Linked DNA regions of Homo sapiens. The protein of the gene in region 3 purifies or fractionates together with the protein of the main gene of each other region. This does not show direct contact. Each region holds a gene or a part of one and is shown on either strand. Other genes may lie near its edges. The genes, in order: KRT85, KRT82 and PLEKHB2.

Region 1 (2,645 bases), on a different chromosome or scaffold from region 3:
AATGCATATAGAAGTGCATCATCATCATAACACACAGGCCTGTGTGGCAGCAGCTTCAGTAGGAAGCTATTCAACAAGGACGGATTTGGGAGGCATGAGACTTGGGTGCAGGTCCCAGCTCTTCTGCTTATTAACTGCGTAGCCATGATAAAGGCACTGAATTCTGAGCCTGCTTCTTTATCTAAAGATAAAAAGATGGGAAAAACCATATCTATCTTATTGGATTGTGAGGATTATAAAATAAACACTTAGCACAGGTCTAGCACAGAAGCATTCAGTTATTATTATTATTATTATTGAAGCTATTGTATTAGCCATGGCCAGAGTTGTAGCTCACACTCAGCTCAAGGAAATTCACTCCTGGAGGACCACAGCCTCCACCTCTGAAACCCCACAAAGTCCTCTTAGCCCCACCTGTGTTCCTCGCCCTCCAGCAGGCGCCTGTAGGTGGCGATCTCGATGTCCAGGCCCAGCTTGGAGTTCATCACCTCCTGGTACTCCTTGAGCAGGCAGGCCATGTCCTGCTTGGCCTTCTGCAGGGCGCCCTCCAGCTCAGCCAGCTTGCAGCGGGCATCGCTGAGGGCCGCCTCACCCTGCTGCTCTGCCTCAGCCACAGCAGCCTCCAGCTTGGCACGCTATCAGGTGGAGATACAAGGGCCAGGATGAGAAAGAGAAGCCACAGCTTGGCTCACCCAAGCTGATGGAGCCAGGGCAGGGAGAGGAGGGTCCTGGAGAGAAGGTTGGCCCGTGGCCAGGTAGTTAATGGGGCTGTGAATATGAGGGAGGAGATGGGTGGGCTTTTCATCATCTCTCCTTGATGGCGGTCACAGGGTGGCCAAGGAAGGGGCTGGATCCTCCTTTGGAAGTCAGTGACATGGTCTGATTGCTGTGAAATATGATAGAGCCCCTCCCTTCCCTCTGGGTCCCTGCTTCCTCATGGGCACACTGTGAAGCCTGATTAGGGCCAGGTGCTGCAGCCTGCCTGTGCTGCGTATTTGAATCCTCCACAGACCCCACCTGGCACTTGGCATTCTCAATCTCGGCCGTCAGCCTCTGGATCATGCGGTTCAGCTCGTTGATCTCCTCCTTGGTGCGGCGCAGGGTCTCCCCATGCCTGATCACCGTGGCCTTCATCTCCTCACACTGGAGGAAGTAGAGATGCTCATGAGGCTCAGGGTGGGGCCCCCCATCCATTCAGGACACCACAGATGACTATACAGGTTGTACGGTGCTCAGCCTGTGCAACCACACATGGCAGTCCTGCCCTGCCACTTCAACCTGAGAACTACTGGCTTTTCTCATACTGTCCTCATGGGTCAGAATCCCCAGGCAAGAGAAATCTTTTCTAATAGATGCCTAACTTCCCTCCCACTGCCATGCTTAGCAGGCAGGTGTCCTGTGCCACTCACCTTGCTACGGTACCAGGACTCAGCCTCGGCCCGGCTGCGGCTGGCAACATCGTCATACTGAGCCTTGATCTCAGCGATGATGCAGTCCATGTTCAGGTCTCGGCTGTTGTCCATCTTGACTATGACCGAGGTGTCTGAGATGTGGGCTTGGAGAACGCGGATCTCCTGTGGGGCCAACAGCCAGTGCATTTGCTTCTAGTGCCTGATCTGGGCCACGTGATCCACCCCAGGGGACAATGTCCACTTCCCAGACCGGGCACTGGTCATGAAGGTTACATGACTCCTGCTCCTACCACCTTCACTCATGCACAGGCTCCTTAAAAACAACAAAGCTGAAAGGGGCTGTAGAGGCCATCTGGGAACAGTGTCTGCCTTAAAAGTGGGAAAACTGAGGCCCAGAGGGTGAAAAAGATCTGGTCCAAAGTCACCCAGCAGGGGAGCTGGGGTTTGGAGGCTAGGATGAGTGATTAGTCAGTCCATTAATGAGGACCATGCCCTATGTGCGAAGCCATCCTGACCCCCACCACACATGCACACTCTCTTGCCCATCTGTAGACTGGCACTCACACAGGCAGCACACCAACATGCAGAGAGGTCACAGACACAGAGCAGCCCAAGAACATGTACACCCCATGCTCCTCTCACACATGAACGTGGACATGGCCTCTGTATTGTGGGCCCCAGCACGTATGTGCAAGCTCTTTTCACACTTACATTGCACATTGGCAAACATAGGCACACACATGCACCCTTGCCTCACTGCTCCCCTGTCTCCAAAACACCCCTCCACCTGCCCTGGCTGGGTGGCAGTTGCCCCCTTACCTCTTCATAGAGGCGCCTCAGGAAGCTAGACTCCTCCACCAGGGCCTCCACATTGGCCTCCAGGTCTGATTTCCGCAGGTAGGCACAGTCCACGTCCTGGCCGTGGGACAAAGAGGAGGGGACATGCATGTGAGAGGAGACCAAAGAAAGGTGCCTTTGGTCAGCATGGTGACCCTGCCCCTCGCTGGAGTTTGCACTGATGGGCCCCCTCCTCCTTGCCCCATGACCAGCCCCTCACCTTCTTTAGAACGACAAACTCATTCTCTGCTGTGGCTCTCAGGGCCACCTCCTCTTCATACCTGGGTGTGGGAGAGAGAAGGTCTGGAGCTGAGAAACTGGACCTTGAATACCATCCCAACTCCTGGGCAAGTTCTTCCGGGGATTGAAAAGGGATTAATCCCCTCCAGATGTTGT
Region 2 (3,062 bases), on a different chromosome or scaffold from region 3:
CATGGGTGCTCTTTGGGGAGAGTGGGGAGTCATCCCAACTCTCAGGAGAGGGGAGCCATAAGGGGGAAAGCACCCCCCAGGAGGGGCTGTTTCAGGGGGTCGGTGAGGCAGAGGAAAGGGGACTGAGGCCTCACAGAGGGTGGAAGCACCGCCGCCAAATCTCCAGGTCTTGGGCTCTCTAAATGGGGAGAGGAGACTGGAGTGTCCTGGTCCTCCTCACTCCATGGGCTGCCACCATCTTCACTGCTTTCCTGGAGCTGGGGGTATCCAGGCACTGAGAATGGTTCGGGATAGGGACAGAGCCTAGGGCTTGGGGGCTGCTAAGTCTAGACACAATAGAGGACCCCAAGGATTTTCTCTAGGATGTGTATAGGACACCATGTAGTGAGGAGGCCTGTGTGCAATGGGCTTGTGGCTTTTAACATGGCAAGTGACTTGCAAACCATTGGGGTGTGACGTGCAGGTTTTAAGTGTGATTTGTATAGAGCCCTATTTCTTCCACAGGCAATTTGCAAATTATTTACATGTAGTGTTTCTGTTTGTATAATAGTCTTCATTTCTGTTCCGAAGACTCCAGTCCCAAAAAGCTGCTCACCAGTTCCCCCTCAGCCTTATCACACTTTCCACAGAGCAGAGTAAATAATCCTGATTGCTATAATCCATGAACAGAGTAGGTTTATTTTGAACAGAAGCCCAGATGTTCAGGGCAGAGGCCCTGGAGCCCCAGTGGGACAGGCTTGGCATGAGGGGCTTCTGGGAGGTAGTCAGCCCACACCTCCTCCATCTATGAGCTCCTGAGCCAGGGCCTCCAAGTCAGCTGGGGCAGCCCCACATCACTGTCATATCAGACTCAAAGCAAAAGGAGCTAAAGGGTTGGGGAACAGGAAGGGGCGGCTATGTACAGAAGGGGATGGGTGGAGGGGGAACTGATTCCATTGAGAAAATGGTATCTGTTTTTGGTTTTCCAACTGTCCAGTAAACATTCCATATCCCTTTGCCCTTTGTTCTAGGCATTGGCCTGACATCACCTGCCAATGTGAGCTCAGGAGAAAGATTTATTCTCACAGTTTGGGTTCAACATACCTGAGAAAGTAAATCTACTGCCCAAAGGCCACCTCTTGATTCTCTGTGCTGAGAGGACATTGGCAGGTCCTGACTGATCCTGAAATCGTGGCACTTGGCTTTGGAATTTAGAGTGGGATTTGGGGGTGTCTCCTTTTGATATTTGCAGTGTGCATGTTTCAGGCGGTGTTAAAGGAAATTCACTTTTCTTAGGGGCATGAGAGCCTAAAGTAAGGGCAGTGTGAGCCTGTGGTGGGAGAGGAGCTGACTTTGTGAGGAAACTTCCATGGGATGATCCACAGAGCAGAACTGTGGTGTGCCCATTTGACCTTTTGGGGGTTATTGCCATTCTGCGGTTAAGAGCAATGCATGCTCTTTCTCTGCCGTCTGTCCCCACCATCTGGGCCTAGCTGAGGGTCTGCACACAGGTGAGTGGAAGGTGACTCATGAGGCAAAGGAGGGGTCCTAGGGGCAGCTCAGCTCTCAAGGAGGGAACACTGGAGGGGAATGTGGAGTCAATAAAGGGAGGTGGGGTTTTGGAACATCCTTGTCTTCAGCCCTGGTGGGAGTGTGACATCCAGGGCCATGGGGCAGGGGCTCTGTCTCCTGGATGTCTCGGATCATGCTAATGCTTGTGGCTGGGGGAGCTGCCCCCAGCTCCTAGCGTCATGCTGGATTTCCGCCCGCTCCCACAGCTCAGTAGCCCCTGGGGCTCGCAGGGGACATAGAGTTCACCAGTGCCCACGATGCTGCAGCCCCCATTGCTCCTGAGGACGCCAGTGCTGAGGACAGGCGTGCTGACCCCACATGGCTCGTACAGGAAGGCGCCTTTGGAGCTGCTCACTGCTGTGGGAACAGGAAGGGGTGCTCAGGGCCCCACACGGTGTGGCTCTCAGTGTACTGCCCTGAAACTACTCAGCCAGGCCATTCCTCCCACCTCCTGCCACTCACCTCTACAGACACCCCATTCCAGCCTCCAGCCTCCGCGTCTCCCACCCTAGCCACATAAAGTGCTTGCAAGGTCCCCATGCACCTCTCTCCTTTCCCTAGAGCCTGGGCAAGGCCAGGCTGGATTCAGCTTCACCATTTCTCAGTTTCTACTGGTCCCTCCTTCCTAAGCTTGCTTCAAATCCTCTTCCTCTAGAAGAGCATCCTCTTGTCAGGGTGGTTATTTGTGGCTTCTGGGCCCTGAAGCACTTGGACCATGTTGTTGCAAATCTGCTCCTAGTCTGACTCCCAAAAGATTTGGATAGCCCTTTCCACCAGCCTGGGAGCTCACGGCAGACAGAGCTCTTCCTTTGGGGTAGGGGAGGCATCAGAGGTCTAGGAAGGGGTGGTGTGGGCTGCCTGTGTTGGGGTGATCAACCCCCAAGACTCCAGAGCCAGTGGGGCATGGCTCATCTACTTACAGATATTCACGGGCCCGATGCCTTCGCACAGCCTGGGGATGAGAGGAAAAAGAAAACAGGTATCTACATCAAACAGATGCAGGTAAATGCAGCATCTCCCCGCTCCCGCCCTCATTGTGGACCATGTGCTGCTGTGGGTTTTCAATGAATGTGGGTAGGGGACGGGGTGAGAGATACTAGCAGCCGCCACCAGAGGGCTGGGTAATGGCCATACCTGGTAGCCCATCTTTGACCCCCTCCTGGAGGAGCTCACCTGTGCTCTTCACCCTCCAGCAGGCGCCTGTAGGTGGCGATCTCGATGTCCAGGCCCAGCTTGGAGTTCATCACCTCCTGATATTCCTTGAGCAGGCAGGCCATGTCCTGCTTGGCCTTCTGCAGAGCCTCCTCCAGCCCTGCCAGCTTGCACTTGGCATCATTGAGAGCCGCCTCGCCCTGCTGCTCTGCCTCAGCTATGGCACCCTCAAGTTTGCAGCGCTGTGGGAGGGGCGCAGAAAAGCATCACTGGGGGCCCTGGAGCCCCAAGCCAGACTCGCAGAAGAGCAGAGAGAACACGGGGGTGGCTACGTGCCAGGCTCACATTTGCGAGCTTCA
Region 3 (3,657 bases):
ACTGACCCTATCCCTCTTATCTTCATCAATTCCTTTTATGTTTTATTCTCATTTTACTATCTCCCTGAGTTGAAAGATTCATTCACTTATTTTCAAGTGTTCTGGCTTTCTTTTTTTTTTTTTTTTTTTTTTTTTTTTGAGATGGAGTCTCACTCTGTTGTCCAGGCTGGAGTACAGTGGTGTGATCTTGGCTCACCGCAACCTCCACCTCCCAGGTTCACGCCATTCTCCTGCCTCAGCCTCCCAAGTAGCTGGGATTACAGGTGCCTGCCACCACGCCTGGCTAATTTTTGTATTTTTAGTAGAGACGAGGTTTCACCATGTTGGCCAGGCTGGTCTCGAACTCCTGACCTCAGGTGATCCATCCGCCTTGACCTCCCAAAGTGCTGGGATTACAAGCTTGAGCCACCACACCCAGCCCAAGTGTTCTAGCTTTCTAAGGAATGCAGTTAAGTTGCAAAATTCCCCAACTGATTTTGTATGTGGCATACCATTGTCATTCACTTTGCTAAAGGGTATCATACTGGATTATTCATATATCTTATATAGATTTTGTTGTCATATCAGGTGGAAGAGTCTAGTAGGGACTTTGGTCTGCCAATTCAGTTCGATTATTTCAGAACATTTTTCTTGCCTTAGATTTGTAATTCTCTCTTTTGGGTTGTACACTTTATGGACATCAATAATCTTTCTGAACTTTTTTTAGTCTAACATATCTCTGATCTTTTCATCTTTTTCCTGTCACTGAGAGTATCTCCAGTCTTTTCTTCCATGCCAATGATTCACTTTTCATTTGGGGTTGTATTGAAGGGAAGACCACTTTCTTCAGATTATAACGTGAATGGCACCCTCTTGACAGCAACAGACCTTCTAAGTTACAGACACAAAAGAGCAGAAAAGAAACATAAATCTCTGCCCTCACACAGCATATATTCTAATGAAAGCAGATGATGAACAAGATAAATAGTTGATAGATGGTGAGTGTGTATGGGGACAGGGAGATACAATTTTAAATATGGTGGCCAGGAAAGCATTCCTGAAGACTCTGCTCCTGTTTCTTGGGTTTTATTTTCCTCCACTCTAGGAGCTTTTCCTGAGGCTTGCATTTTCCTTTTCTTATTTTTCCTTCATGGTATATCTGCATAGTTGCCAAGCCACTTCTTTACATCCTGCTCACGTTTAACATGGGAAGTGATATCTAAAACTGCTGTTTGCTCTCATAAAGTATGAGTTATTTCTCCTTGACACGCTTCCTACCTAATCTGGTATCAACTGGTAGTTCCACCCTGTTCTACCTCAGTCCAGCCCAGCAACAGTTTGATGGCTAGGTGTTACCCTCACAATCAACATTCTGTAATCTGAGGGCACAGGGCTAGAAGAGAAGGACATTTCTTCTGAGACCGAGTAAGTCTTTTCTGAAAACTCTGGGTCCTACACTCTCTTCTGAGCATATTCCTTTGAATGTCCCATGCTAGGGCTCACTTCACCAGACAGAAAATTACCCAACTCCTGTGAGCTTCAGTGCCTTTCACTGCCCTGCAATGATGAGTCCTGGGAGAACCGTCCAGCCTCTGCTGAGGCCCCAAGGACATCACATTCTTAAGGATTTTTTCCCTAGCTTTTCCAAAAAGTAACTTACACTTAATCAGCATCACTCCAGATTACAGGGTAATACTGAAAATTTGCAAGATTTAATTAACTCATCTTGTCACTGCTTCTGGGATTCGGGTAGGATTGAAGAACATCTCAGTAGAATCATCTATTTCTTTCTTTAACTGTTTGTAGTTTGTGCTTGAGATCAAACTTCTTTATTTGGTTGCACCATTGAAATGTTTTCCCCTCAGGGAAGATGATCTCTAATCCATTTCACCATCTTTCTCAAAAGTCTCTATTATGGGTTCAATTGTGTCCTCATGAAAAAGATATGTATAAATCCTAATCCCCAGTACCCTCAAATGGGACCTTATGTGGAAATAGGATATTTGCATATGGAATCAAATTAAGATAAGGTCATAGTGAATTAAGGTGGGTCCTTAATCCATTATGATTGGTGTCCTTTATAAGAAAAGAGAATTCTGGACACAGACACAGCCGAAGAAGGCCATGTGACAACAGAGGCAGAGACCGGAGTGATGTGGCTGTCAGCCAAAGAACACCAAGGACTACCAGCAACCACCAGAAGCTAGGAAGAGGCAAGAAAGGATCCTACCCAGCATCTCAGAGGGAGCAAGGATCTGCTGACACACTGATTCCAGACTTCCAGCCTCCAGAACTATGAGACAATGAATTTCTGCCATTTCCGTCACTCAGTGTTCAGCAATTTGTGACAGCAGCCCTAGGAACTGACAGTTTCCTTACTCTTTACTTTCTTGCTTTTCTGGTCATTTTATTTCAACTATGCCCGTTACCCACTGTGAATCTAATAATGAAAGACAGCATGATGAGACTGCTATTCCTTTCTGCCATTTTCACCACAATGGGATCGGCCTAGGCAGTCTGAGAGAGGCAGAAACTAGAATTGGAAAAGCGACTCTTGCATTTCTCTCATACATCCACTGAGTCCCTTATTCTGATGCCTGAAAGAAAACTCCACGCCCTTTCTTTTCATTTTTTGGTAATCAGAAGTTAAAATAGAAAATACTTTTTAAATTAAACACATAAGAAAGCAAAACTTACAAGCAATCATCTGTGCTTTCTGCACAAAGACTAATTGTTTTCCCATCTCGACAAACAATCTGGAGCATGCAGTCTTTTGACTTTCCATCCGGGGGCTGAGTATCTATGAAAAATAAGCAGAATAAAGGAACTTTTTTCAGGATTTCTTCTTACATTTTCTAAGAACTACCAGCTCAGAGAAGCAAAGGACTAGACAATAAATCAAGTGCTACATCTATGAAAGAACCCTCTGCCTTTCCAAGAATGCAGAAAGAACATAGCTAGGCTGACTGACAAGACCAGCTGCCAAGATGACGTCCACAAAATATATTCGGCTCACTGCAACCTCTGACTCCCGGGTTCAAGCAATTCTCTACCTCAGCCTCCTGAGTAGCCAGATTACAGGCACCTGCCACCACACCTGGCTAATTTTTTTGTATTTTTAGTAGAGTTGGGGTTTCACCATCTTGGCCAGGGTGGTCTTGAACTCCTGCCCTCGTGATCCACCCACCTCGGCCTCCCAAAGTGCTGGGATTACAGGCATGAGCCACCATGCCTGGCCAACATCCCAGATTTTAAGCAATTGACTGGAGTCACCATCAAACAGAAGCCAGTTTCTGAGTACAAAATCAACGTAGTCTAGGGTGGCCTGTGCTTCCTGAGGTTCCCAGAGCTCTGGCTCCCTCTCCACGAGAACGAGGGACGTGGACTGAGAACACTGATATTTCCCGACCATGTGGTTCATAATCTAAGTGCCTGGGGCCCCACTGTGGTCGCCCCTCTGAGATGGAGCCCTTCTTCAATCTGTTAATGAAAGCAGAACAGGGAAGGAAGAGGACCAAGCTCCCAGCAAGACAGAGGAAGAGCAGAAGACAGAAGTTGGCCAAGACAGGCCAGCTTACCCCGACATTCCTGCCCCGTGCGGATGTTGATGCAGTCCATTGGCATGTGGACCTTATCCTCGATATTCTGCCGAGTCTGGTCATCATAATAGATCAGGTG

What was found.
Region 1: the proteins of PLEKHB2 (region 3) and KRT85 purify together in Homo sapiens (affinity purification with mass spectrometry; one large-scale study listed by BioGRID and IntAct). This does not show direct contact.
Region 2: the proteins of PLEKHB2 (region 3) and KRT82 purify together in Homo sapiens (affinity purification with mass spectrometry; one large-scale study listed by BioGRID and IntAct). This does not show direct contact.

The regions. Positions count from the first base shown.
Region 1 is NC_000012.12:52,361,837-52,364,481, forward strand, and holds part of KRT85 (keratin, type II cuticular Hb5), read right to left. Parts: exon of another isoform or gene 2,585-2,645; coding exon of another isoform or gene 2,531-2,584; coding exon 2,470-2,530; intron 2,328-2,469; coding exon 2,232-2,327; intron 1,575-2,231; coding exon 1,410-1,574; intron 1,144-1,409; coding exon 1,018-1,143; intron 636-1,017; coding exon 415-635; intron 1-414.
Region 2 is NC_000012.12:52,393,288-52,396,349, forward strand, and holds the end of KRT82 (keratin, type II cuticular Hb2), read right to left. Parts: intron 2,946-3,062; coding exon 2,725-2,945; intron 2,504-2,724; coding exon 2,472-2,503; intron 1,909-2,471; coding exon 1,688-1,908; 3' UTR 644-1,687; downstream 1-643.
Region 3 is NC_000002.12:131,125,806-131,129,462, reverse strand, and holds part of PLEKHB2 (pleckstrin homology domain-containing family B member 2), read right to left. Parts: coding exon 3,558-3,657; intron 2,780-3,557; coding exon 2,677-2,779; intron 1-2,676. UniProt on the Homo sapiens protein: Involved in retrograde transport of recycling endosomes.